Linked DNA regions of Homo sapiens: region 2 is linked to region 1. Evidence: fine-mapped expression QTL. A gene starts in region 1. The other region holds a variant in brackets. All regions are shown on one strand. Distances are between the middles of the regions.

Region 1 (5,265 bases):
GCTTTCTTTTAGAATCGGAGAATTTTAGGAAGTTAAAAAAAAAAAAAAAAGACCAGAACAGACAAGAGCTTAAGCCTCACCAGGGGACTATGAAATGAATGGGGAAGTTGGTGACGTATCAGCTTAAAAAAAAAAAAAAAGCAGTTAAACTTGGCACTAATTAGTAGCCAGGCTGTGTAACATGCTGGGGATTTGGTGAACAGTGTCTTCCCTCAGATTTACATCAGAGTGCGAAAGACACCGAAACAACTATTCAGATTTAGCAGCTGTGAAAAGTTGCTATGAAAAGAATACCAGGTGCTGTGAGAACATAAGGCATGTTATCATTAGAAAAAAATACGACAATTTCCATTTTGGAGAAACAGTATCTATGCTATCCCATCCCTTCTTTAAAAGTATACATGTGAAATAAAACACTGGAAAATAAACTAATTTTCGTGGTAGAATTTCTTGTGATTTTTTTTTTTCTTTGTGCTTTCTATTCTGGTTGTTCTCCCCCTCCCCCCCATAACGTGTATCCTTTTTGAATGTAAAAGTAAAAGTAGCTACCATTCCTGCCTCAATAAAATAGCCCAACATAATAGAATCTATTTTTTTCGTATTAAGAATTTGCAATACCTGGAGTTTAGGAACATAAATATTAATTTTGCTTTTACAGGGCAGTAGATGAAGAAACAGTGTCAGAGACTAGCGTGAAAGTGAATAGAGTCTATGAATCACTCAGGCTTTGTTTTTTTCCACTTAAAAATATTCCTGAAATTTGCTTAGGAGTGTTAAGGCCTAATTAGCCAAAACCACCAGGAGAGCGCATCTCGAAGAGGAATCAGAAAGCGCAGGACAAGACAGTTGAATCTTTTCTAAGACTTGAGGTCCCTCTGGAGGGTTCTGAGGAAGGTCTAGGAAAGCCGGGATTGGTTCTGGATGGGTTGCTGTTTGTAAAGAAGGATTGGGAGAAACTGATTAGGGACTAAGTGCTGTTATGAGTGAGGGTGGTTTAGCAATTGAGTATTTCCAGTAATAGGAATAGCAAAGCTGGTCTGAGGGCATCATTAGTAAGAAAACAGTGGTTATTCAGAGAGGGTGGTTATGGTTTACAGCTGCTGCATGACCTTAGGAGAAACAATGCTTTCTGTTGGTGAAAAAAAGAAGACATCCTAAGACAAACCTTGCACCTCAAAACCTCTGTAGATAGAGAATCCCCACTTGGAAGCTATAGGTGTTGTGCAGATTTAGTCTTAAAAATTAACACTTTGAGTGCTGATAATATAATATGATGATGTAAAATTTAGGAGATACAGGAGGAAATAAAGGATGGGGATAAAGGAAAAAGAACAGTGAAGGGACAATAAAGGTATGCATATTTTTCTGTCTTTCCTCTTTTCTTCACCTTAAGTTAGGCTCTTTTCTTATAACCTAGTATAATGTCCAGCATTTAATAGGTATTCAATAAATATTTGTGAATGAATGAATCATTCAATCAATATTGGTCCTGAAATGCCAGGGAAAAAGAGATGATGAACTGGCATATATTGAGAACCATGTCTATGTCAGGTATAGTGTCAAGCCTTTCGTGAAAGAGTAATATGGAATCAACTCCTCTCTCTCAGCTGATCTGCAGCTTAAAATGCATATATGGTGAACTGTGGGAAGCGGAGTTTGAATGACACAGGTCAGCCTTATGTTTTAATTTATATCTTCATCTTGTAGTTGTTCAATGTATTCCATTTTACTATAGAAACAGGAAAAGGTCGTCAACTTTTTCAAGCAAAATTTCTTTTCATATCTGGGAAATTGGAATTCCTTTTTTATATCTTTATTATCTCTCTGATATTCTCTTGCTCCCTGGCCAAGCCCTTCCAGGCAACTTTGGTTAATATATTATTGAGATGTTAGAGGTTTAAAATAAATCACTATCAAAGGATAGAATTTTAAGGGAAGACTAAATTATGTATTCATTAGAATCATAATTTTGTTCCTAAGACAGATTCGTGATGGTATAATAGAAACAGTGTCTTAGCCTGAAGTATTGAGGATAGTCCTAAGATTAGGGAACGATCAGTTCGTTCTTAATCATAAGCATAAGAGAATGACTCAAACGCTGCTGTTTGATCTACCTGTACTTACATTTCTTCTTAATTTTAAATTCTTCTCTGCTAGTATTCTTTAGACCCAACATTGGTTGTTTCCCCTATTTCTTCAATATTTCTATTTATTTTCCATCCTTTTTACAGGGTCATCTAAATAAAAATATCTTAAAGCAATAAACCATTGTTATTGAGTCAGTACCTCAGTCCATGCAGCTTAATAATATGGAGAGCAAAAAAAAAAAGCCTCTCGATTTATTTTTTAATATTACACGATCCTAGTTTTTTCTTCCCAGAAAACGTGCCACAAAGTTTGCAAGAAAGAGCTTTTGGGGCGGAGCCCTGGCTGCTTAGGTCCTTTCCATTGGTTCTACTTGGTGACCACGCCCACGGCCCCGCCTCCTGGGCGGAAGAGCCAATTGGGCCGCGAGTTGTGGTTTAAACCAGGAGTGCGCCGCGTCCGTTCACCGCGGCCTCAGATGAATGCGGCTGTTAAGACCTGCGTGAGTGAATGGGAGGGTCGCGGGTGGTTAGTTGAGCCGGCTCCGGCGGGGAAGGAGGCGGGCTGCGGCTGCGGCTGGGGCTGAAGCTGGGGCTGGGGTTGGGGGACTGCCCGGGGCTTAGATGGCTCCGAGCCCGTTTGAGCGTGGTCTCGGACTGCTAACTGGACCAACGGCAACTGTCTGATGAGTGCCAGCCCCAAACCGCGCGCTGCTCGGGACCTTAGAGCCTCTGACTCAGGCTGGAAGATTTGAGAGCTGGATTAAGTACTTGTTGGCTCACGCCCGTGACTGTTCCGCTGTTTAGCTCTTGTTTTTTGTGTGGACACTCCTAGGATAGAAAGTTTGGTATGTTGCTATACCTTTGCTTCTCCCACCTTCCCCAATATCTAATATGTATTTCTCATTCTTAGAATAATCCAGAATGGCTACTCTGATCTATGTTGATAAGGAAAATGGAGAACCAGGCACCCGTGTGGTTGCTAAGGATGGGCTGAAGCTGGGGTCTGGACCTTGTAAGTATACAAGGCTGCAGTCGGATACACTGGTATTGTGGACGTGGCCTGGAGCTGGACGAGACATTTAGTGTACTTTTTGGGCAATTGGAGTCGTTTGTTATTGGTCCTTTTTCATTTTTAATATCTTAATGAGATGATTTAAGGAAGTTACTGAATCTCTGCTATTAGGCCTATCATAGCCATGCCACTACCAAAAGTGGGGGGTGGGTTTGGGGGTGAGAGGTCAAGTTTATATACACAGTATTTAAGTTGTACAGGTATTTTGCTGCTGGAATATTCTTATGGTAAGACTTTTTCTTCAGCAATCAAAGCCTTAGATGGGAGATCTCAAGTTTCAACACCACGTTTTGGCAAAACGTTCGATGCCCCACCAGCCTTACCTAAAGCTACTAGAAAGGCTTTGGGAACTGTCAACAGAGCTACAGAAAAGTCTGTAAAGACCAAGGGACCCCTCAAACAAAAACAGCCAAGCTTTTCTGCCAAAAAGGTAAGTGTTGGCTATAAAGACACTGTTTAAACACTTAAGCACTTTTGACTCTTAAAATGACTATTGGCATCATCCTACGTAGCTTTCTTCCCTCTGAGTAGAAGGGAAATAGAGGTTAGCAAGCAGAGTAGTGGAGGAGACTCAGATTGTCCTTGTGGACTTCTTGGTACCTTGAGATTGGAAATCTCAGATGCAGCTAATGCATATTTTTGCCTCATGCATATTTTTGCCTCACCTGTCCTTCACTAGTGTCGTGAAACTGGTTGGTGGTGTCTACTTACAGATACATACTGAGAGAGAGGGTGCCTTAAGAGAAACTGGTTGGTGGTATCCACTTACAGATACATACTGAGAGAGAGGGTGCCTTAAGAGGTTCTGTTGCTGCTTTAATAGCACAGGTGCTGCCATTCTCTTAGCCTTCCAGGGCAAGCAGCAGCTTGTTAGGTGACAATTTGCTAGCATGTTGATCTTCGTGTGAGTGTGAGTCACAAGCTACAGGTCTGTGTATCCCAGATGAGAGGACTTTGCTGTGAAAGATGACATTAGCATGTGGATTAACACTTTATTTGAATAACTGTTTTGTTTAATTTGCATTAGGAAACAACTAGTGAATTACATATAGTGCAACTTAGGACAAAGATGTCTTCTTTAAAAAGTGAATTAACTTAAAGAAAAATATTAAATACAGGAATTGCAAAGACATGGCAAAAACAATGAGACACAGAACCGAAGTGTGAGAACCCCATAGGGAATTCTAGGCATGCATATGTGAGGTGAGATAAAGCAGGAACATGCCGGCTTCCATTGTAGCACCCTTCTATAGTAGACTGTAGTAGACCTGTCAACTCCAGACTAGAAGATTGCCCATGGTGTTTATTCTAAAGTCCTTGACAGTGTCTTGCTGCCTCTTACTCAGTGTGTGTATTTGAGGAACACAAACTTGTTTTTAATATTAACCAAGCAAATAATTTAAGGTAACACTTGTGGAAAAAATCACACTCCTATAAGCCAAAAATGGCTTTGATGATTAGCTACTATCCTGGGTGATTCATGCCCATTTTCTCCTCTGTTAGGTTGAATAATTGCATTGATTAGCTCTGAATTAACTGCATTCTTGATCACTTATGCTGACAGGTGCTGGTACTTAAATTTCAGATTTTAACTTTTGAGTCATGCTACTCGAATTACATTTGAATCATATTATTTGAAGTATATTTAGGTGCAATTATGAAAACTAAGGATTATGGCTTCTTAGAAGGCAGCATGAAATTGACAAATTTAAAAACTAATCAGCTAATAAGACTTCCACTGTCACTAACCCATATTTTCTTTGGCTGTTCTAGATGACTGAGAAGACTGTTAAAGCAAAAAGCTCTGTTCCTGCCTCAGATGATGCCTATCCAGAAATAGAAAAATTCTTTCCCTTCAATCCTCTAGGTAGTATCTTTTGCAATTGCGAAAAGTGCTTTTGGCCTTTAGTTTCTTAGTATTCAGCTCAGCTGTAACTTGTTATGAATATAATATATGACCAAAAACTATGATGAGACTGTCTGAATCTGGGTTGCTTTGGACAAGTGTACTTGTTGATGGAATTATTTGCAAGGTATCATCTTAGGTCAGGAGGGGAATAGGAACAAAGATGTAGAAGACATTGTTCCTGTCTGTAAAAGCTTATC
Region 2 (5,500 bases), 46 kb after region 1:
GCAAAGAAGATTCACATTCCTTCCACACAATTCCTCTCTTTCCAGCATCTTTTTTTTTTTGAGATGGAGTCTCGCTGTGGTCACCCAGGCTGGAGTACAGTGGTGCTGTCTCGGCTCACTGCAACCTCCCCCTCCCAGGTTCAAGCGATTCTCCTGCCTCAGCCTCCTGAGTAGCTGGGATTACAGGCACCCACCACCACACCCGGCTAATTTTTATAATTTTAGTAGAGACGAGATTTCACCATATTGGCCAGGCTGGTCTCAAACTCCTGACCTCAGGTGATCCGCCTGCCTCGGCCTCCCAAAGTGCTGGGATTACAGGCGTGAGCCACCGTGCCAGGGCTTCTTTACTGACTTTTAACTCTAGGAATTTATTTAATTTCTGTGAGTGTCTGTCTTCTGGATTTTTGTCTGTGAAATAGAGACGAATACCCATCTTATCAGCATTAAGTGAGATAATGGTGGTAAAGTGCATAGCACTTTCCCTGGCATGTAATATAAGTTATATAAATGATGTTTAAGCTCTCCTCCACCCTACCCCCCAACAAAATGAAACAAAAATGACACGTATTTTGGTTGTAAAAGGATGAGGCTGAATTCATATATCATCCCTGAAAACCTGCCTCAAGATTTTAGAGTTTATTCCTCCCGAGGCAAAAGGCAGCAGATGGAGGTGCTTGCAGCTGATAGCATATAGCTACTTAAATTCTGGCTCCAAGCATCCACTTTCCTGTTTCTGGAAAACTATACTAATGACCCCCAGGTGTCACAAAGGAGCCCTTAGGAATGCCGAAGTCGAGTTAACTGACTGGAACGGGATAATGTACTTGTTAGCAGAAACCAGCAAGGGTTGAGTTCCTTCTGTTTATTCCATTTGAGTCTAGCCCCCAGTTCATGGATCCAAATAATTTTGGATTTCTTTAAACAGAATTGTCGCTAACTGAATTAGGCAGCTTTTAACCTTTTATAAAAACTTCACAAATAGGTTGCTTACTCCTTAATACAACATGGGATGTGTTAAGAGTGCCCTTAACTCTTCTGGTCACCCTTATGCTTCCTCCCTTCCATCAACCCACCCGGTTTCAGCAGATGCTGGAGTGCTTGAAGGTATGCCCAGAGCCCACTCAGATACCTGGGTCCACCCCAAACCCCCAAGGAACTCCCTTCCAATGGGAGAGAATCTCACACAAGGAAATAGTTTTGATGTGGACCCCTTGAGAGGCAGAGTAATGCAGTGTACCAGGTTCAGAGATTTGGGGACAGGAAACCTCAATTCAAATCCTGGCTCTGATATTTTCTAGCTATGTGAACTCTGGCAAGTTTCGACTCTCTTGGAACCTCGGTTTCCTCATTTCTAATCTAAGAATAGTATCTGCTTTTTAGGGTTCTTAGGAGTATTAAATAAGAACATGTTTTTATGAACAGTGTCTGGTGTATAACAATTGCTCAATAAATATTTGCTTTTAAAAACGTTATCTATAGTAGACGTTCAAACAAACCTTTTGGGAGCTCAGCAAGATAAGCAACAAAAACCTTCAGGGGAGGTCAGGAAAGTGACTACATCTGCCTGGAAGCAAAATCCTTTGAGCTGGTCTTTTTCGGTCCATGAGCACGTGACCAAGGAAAGGAAGCTATATTTTCTCGACTGGGAATTTGAATTTGCAGTTGCACATTCCAAAGGCCTTGTACGTTCTTTCCAGTTTGGGAAAAGGAGCAGCTAAGGGCACCCATGGAAACACTTACTAATTGTGTGACCTTAGGCAAGTCCCCCTAACCTCACCAAAGATAAAATTCCCTTATGAGTAAAAGGGGATCACAAAATGGAGATAATAATTCGGGCTACCTGCTATGGATGATTGCTGTGGGATTAGGGAAGATGATGCACGTGATACATTTAGCAGAGTGCCTGGTGCCTAGTAGGTGCCCATTAAAATTTAGCTATGACTGTTCTCTTTAGCTGACACACAAGACTGCCTTGAATGTTCACATTTCCAGAGAAAGGTGCTCAGGAAGATTTCTCAGTGTTCCGCCTGCCAGGTCAGTTTACAGTTCAAAGAATCCCTTTGTTCAAAGGGTGAGCAAATCCAGGCCTCGTGTATCTGCAGCAATGAAACAAGGGAGCTTTCTGCCTGATCTTCTCCCCAAAGGCAGTCTCTCTTTTTAAATGCCTGCACACATGTTATTTATTTATTTTTGGTTAACGTTTAAATTGAGGTTTTGGCTGAAACTCAGCCTGCGCGCACTTGAAAAGCCAACAGGCTCATTGGGCAGCCGATAAAGCTCTCGGGATTTCCCCGCGGGGCTGCGGAGAGTACAG[A/G]CAGGAAGCCTGGGGACCCAGCGCCTGACCAGAACTTCCTCGGGGGAGGCTGCAGGGGAGCAGGCGCATCCTGCACAGAACGCTCTAGAGCGCGCAGGCCAAAGCACCAGGCTGCTCCTGACACGTGCTGCAAGAGGGTCCCCGACCCGGGGGTCCAGACCCTGCACGCATGATGGGGAAGGTGGAGGCTTCCCCCTCAGCTCCGCGGAGAGAAGCTGACACTGCCAGGCTGGAACCTTCCATTCCGGCCCAGCCTCTTCCTCCCTCGCTGTGCCGAGGAGGGATCTAGAAGGGACTTTCCAGAGAGGGTTAGCGTGCAGGGTGTGGAAATGGAATAAAAGCATATGCAAATAGGCCTTAGCTGCCTTCCTCTACCCCAGCAAATAAGAGTCTCTCCAGAAAGATGCTCTTTCTCCAAGACGCTTGACCGCTCTTCCTTTCCTGGATGGCACCAGCAGGGCCGATTGGAGTGGTAAACCCTGGGCCGGAAGGCATGCCAAAGGGTGGACAGGATGGACAGGAGACAGTAGCACAACGAGGAGGGGGAGAACAGCGGCTGAATTGGAAATGATAAAATAAAATGAAATTTTAGGAGCTCGCTGTGAGTATGAGCTGGGAAAAAATAATCATTGCAAGCTGATTTATTATGTACTTATCTTCTGTTTGAGAGGCAGCAGGCTTTTGTACAGTGGATTATTGCAGAGTAAATGGCACATTAAAGATATAATCAAGATGTTTAAGGCATATTGAAATGACATTAGAATCAAGTAGGTGAGACTTTTGTCATGGTCTAGAAATATAAAAATGTCAGTGACTTGGAGATATTTCCAGTGCTTTAGTAAAGATGTGGCTCCATTTTCAAAAGGGACATATTTTTAACCTTTTGTTATTTTCAGGGTGGGGGGGGATAGAGTGGGGTCAGGAAGTGGTTTAGAATCTCTATGGATGATAAAATAATATGCTTTAAACCTGGAGTTGTAGACTGTGGTCTCTATTTAGCAAGTCATAAACTTTCTTGCAGTGACAATAGCATGAAAATATTGGACAGTAAATATGGTGCTCTTAGGAGGTTTCAGGGTTGGAAGACTATGGCTATTACTTTTTGTTTATTGTGTTCCTATTCTCAATTTCAATCTTGTCTTTGGATAGTAAGAATTTTTTTTAAATTTTCTATTTTTTTAAAAAGAATCTTTTACATACTGAACCTGACTTGTATACTAATTGGCAAACAGTGTCACTTTTCTTTCTTGATGCCTCAATGGGTTTAATTATTGTATTACGGTATTTTCTTGTCATTTGAGACCTTCACATTCAGTGTCCTTTCTTTCTTTTTTTTCTTTTTCTTTTTGAGATGGAGTCTTGCTCCCGGCCTGTCGCCCGGGCTGGAGGGCAGTGGTAAGATCTCGGCTCACTGCAACCTCCGCCTCCTGGGTCCAAGCAATTCTTGTGCCTCAGCCTCGAGAGTAGCTGGGATTACAGATGCGCGCCACAATGCCTGGCTAATTTTTGTATTTTTAGTAGAGACAGGGTTTCGCCACGTTGGCCAGGCTGGTCTTGAACTCCTGACCTCAGGTGATCCGCCCGCTTCGGCCTCCCAAAGTGCAGTGTCCTTTATTTTATTTGTGTGCCCTGGTTCTGCTTTGATTTTGCCCCAAACCCTTCTGAGTGTAGCGCTTTACTGACACTTTATCCCCGTTATTAACAATGGGTTTTTGGACAGAACTGGCTTCTCTTTATTTGTTGTTTTTAAAATCATACTGCTGTCCTTATGCATGGTACTCCTTGGAACAGATAAGCAGCCATACAAGAAGCTCTTTGAGAGAGAGAAGGTGGACTCTGGGGGTCGTGCCGGTTGTTTGGAGTTGTTGGACTGTTAGCTTGTGGAGTGGGTGATGTTTCATCTTCAGGATTCTGTGAGGCCAGGCCTGGGATGCGGGGAGGAGCTGACTGGATGGCTCCTGGTGATGCATTCCTGGGCCCTCTTCTCATCTCTGAATTCCTAGAGTCCCACTTTCTCCAAAGGCCCTGCGGGAATCAGACGCATGCACTTCTTCAGTTCTGTGTAGTTTTAGGTTCTCAGTGGAGGCCTTTGGGCTCAACTTGTAGTAAATATTTGTTTTCTGTGGCTGTCAGCAATCTATAGTCTTGGGTGTGGTCCCTAAAAGCCAGCTTTTGGGCAATTTTTGAACTGCAATGGGGATTCCTCCTTCTGGTTGTTCTACAATCTGGCAAACATTTCTTATTTTGTTCTGGGCTTTAGTCTTATTTAATAACAAGAGAAAATCTTCTATTTTTAACAATAACATGAATTATTTTTATGACTTACACTTTGTAAAGCATTTTTGTCATTTCATGTAATTCTTTCATAAAATTTGTAAGGTTGGTAGAAACAGTAGAATTAGCACATAATGGGAACTTATTAAATATTTGTTAAATGAATGAATTAAATCCATTTGACTGCTAAGGAAATTGAAACTCAAAGAGATCAAGTGATTGATTTAAGGCTCCACTTTCCAGTAGGGACTCACATCTGATTTTTCCCATTCCAGACTGACTCTGATATAATATCTTACATACTATTTGTTACTCTTTCTCCAAGATCTTAGAAAGGTCTTTTGATTCTCTAAGAAAAGATAATAGGACAATGCAAATGCATGGATACACCATCAAAGGGGTGGCTGAGGGCTGTCTACCTCTTTGTATAGTTCTTTCCTAGGTTCCTGACTCCGCTAAAAACTCATATCCTTAAAGATATGACTATTTAGATACATTCCTTGTTGGAGATAAGAACACAAGTTCATTGCTGAATCATGGTGTATATATACAAAAAAAAGAGTGCACAAGTTCATGCTGAGAAAAATGACTATCTTGAATTTTTAATATTTTTTGGAAGTTTGAGCATAAAACTCTGCACATCTCAGGGGAAGTTAATTTCAGAGTTTTGGATGCGGAGCTGAGTATTTTCTCTAGCTTTGTCTCTTGGGGTACTGGAGGGAGTCATGCACTGCCTCCATTTTGGGGTAATCTTGGTGTGTAGCAATCAGCACTCATCTGGCCTACAGTCGTCATTATCAGCTGCCCCCACTGCTGGAGGAAATGTCACCCATATCAGTTCAGACATTAAAATAGTAAGAAAAGAGCCAGTTGTTCTAGCCAAACCCAGAATTAGGCTTAAGGTCGCCA

What was found.
Region 2: its variant is fine-mapped to the expression of PTTG1 in whole blood (TOPMed, PIP 0.96).

Annotation. Positions count from the first base shown.
Region 1 is chr5:160,419,305-160,424,569 of GRCh38, forward strand. PTTG1 (PTTG1 regulator of sister chromatid separation, securin) reads left to right here and starts at 2,551. Exons shown (of 6, transcript NM_004219.4): 1 at 2,551-2,587; 2 at 2,998-3,099; 3 at 3,405-3,589; 4 at 4,933-5,026. The coding sequence starts at 3,009. RefSeq lists enhancers at 1-108, 119-188, 2,800-3,356 and silencers at 2,386-2,445, 2,546-2,705.
Region 2 is chr5:160,465,523-160,471,022 of GRCh38, forward strand. MIR3142HG (MIR3142 host gene) reads left to right here and starts at 2,729. Exons shown (of 2, transcript NR_132748.1): 1 at 2,729-2,918. RefSeq lists enhancers at 1,673-2,309, 2,310-2,946, 2,414-2,643, 2,674-2,833. The variant A/G (reference allele first, on the strand shown) is at 2,318.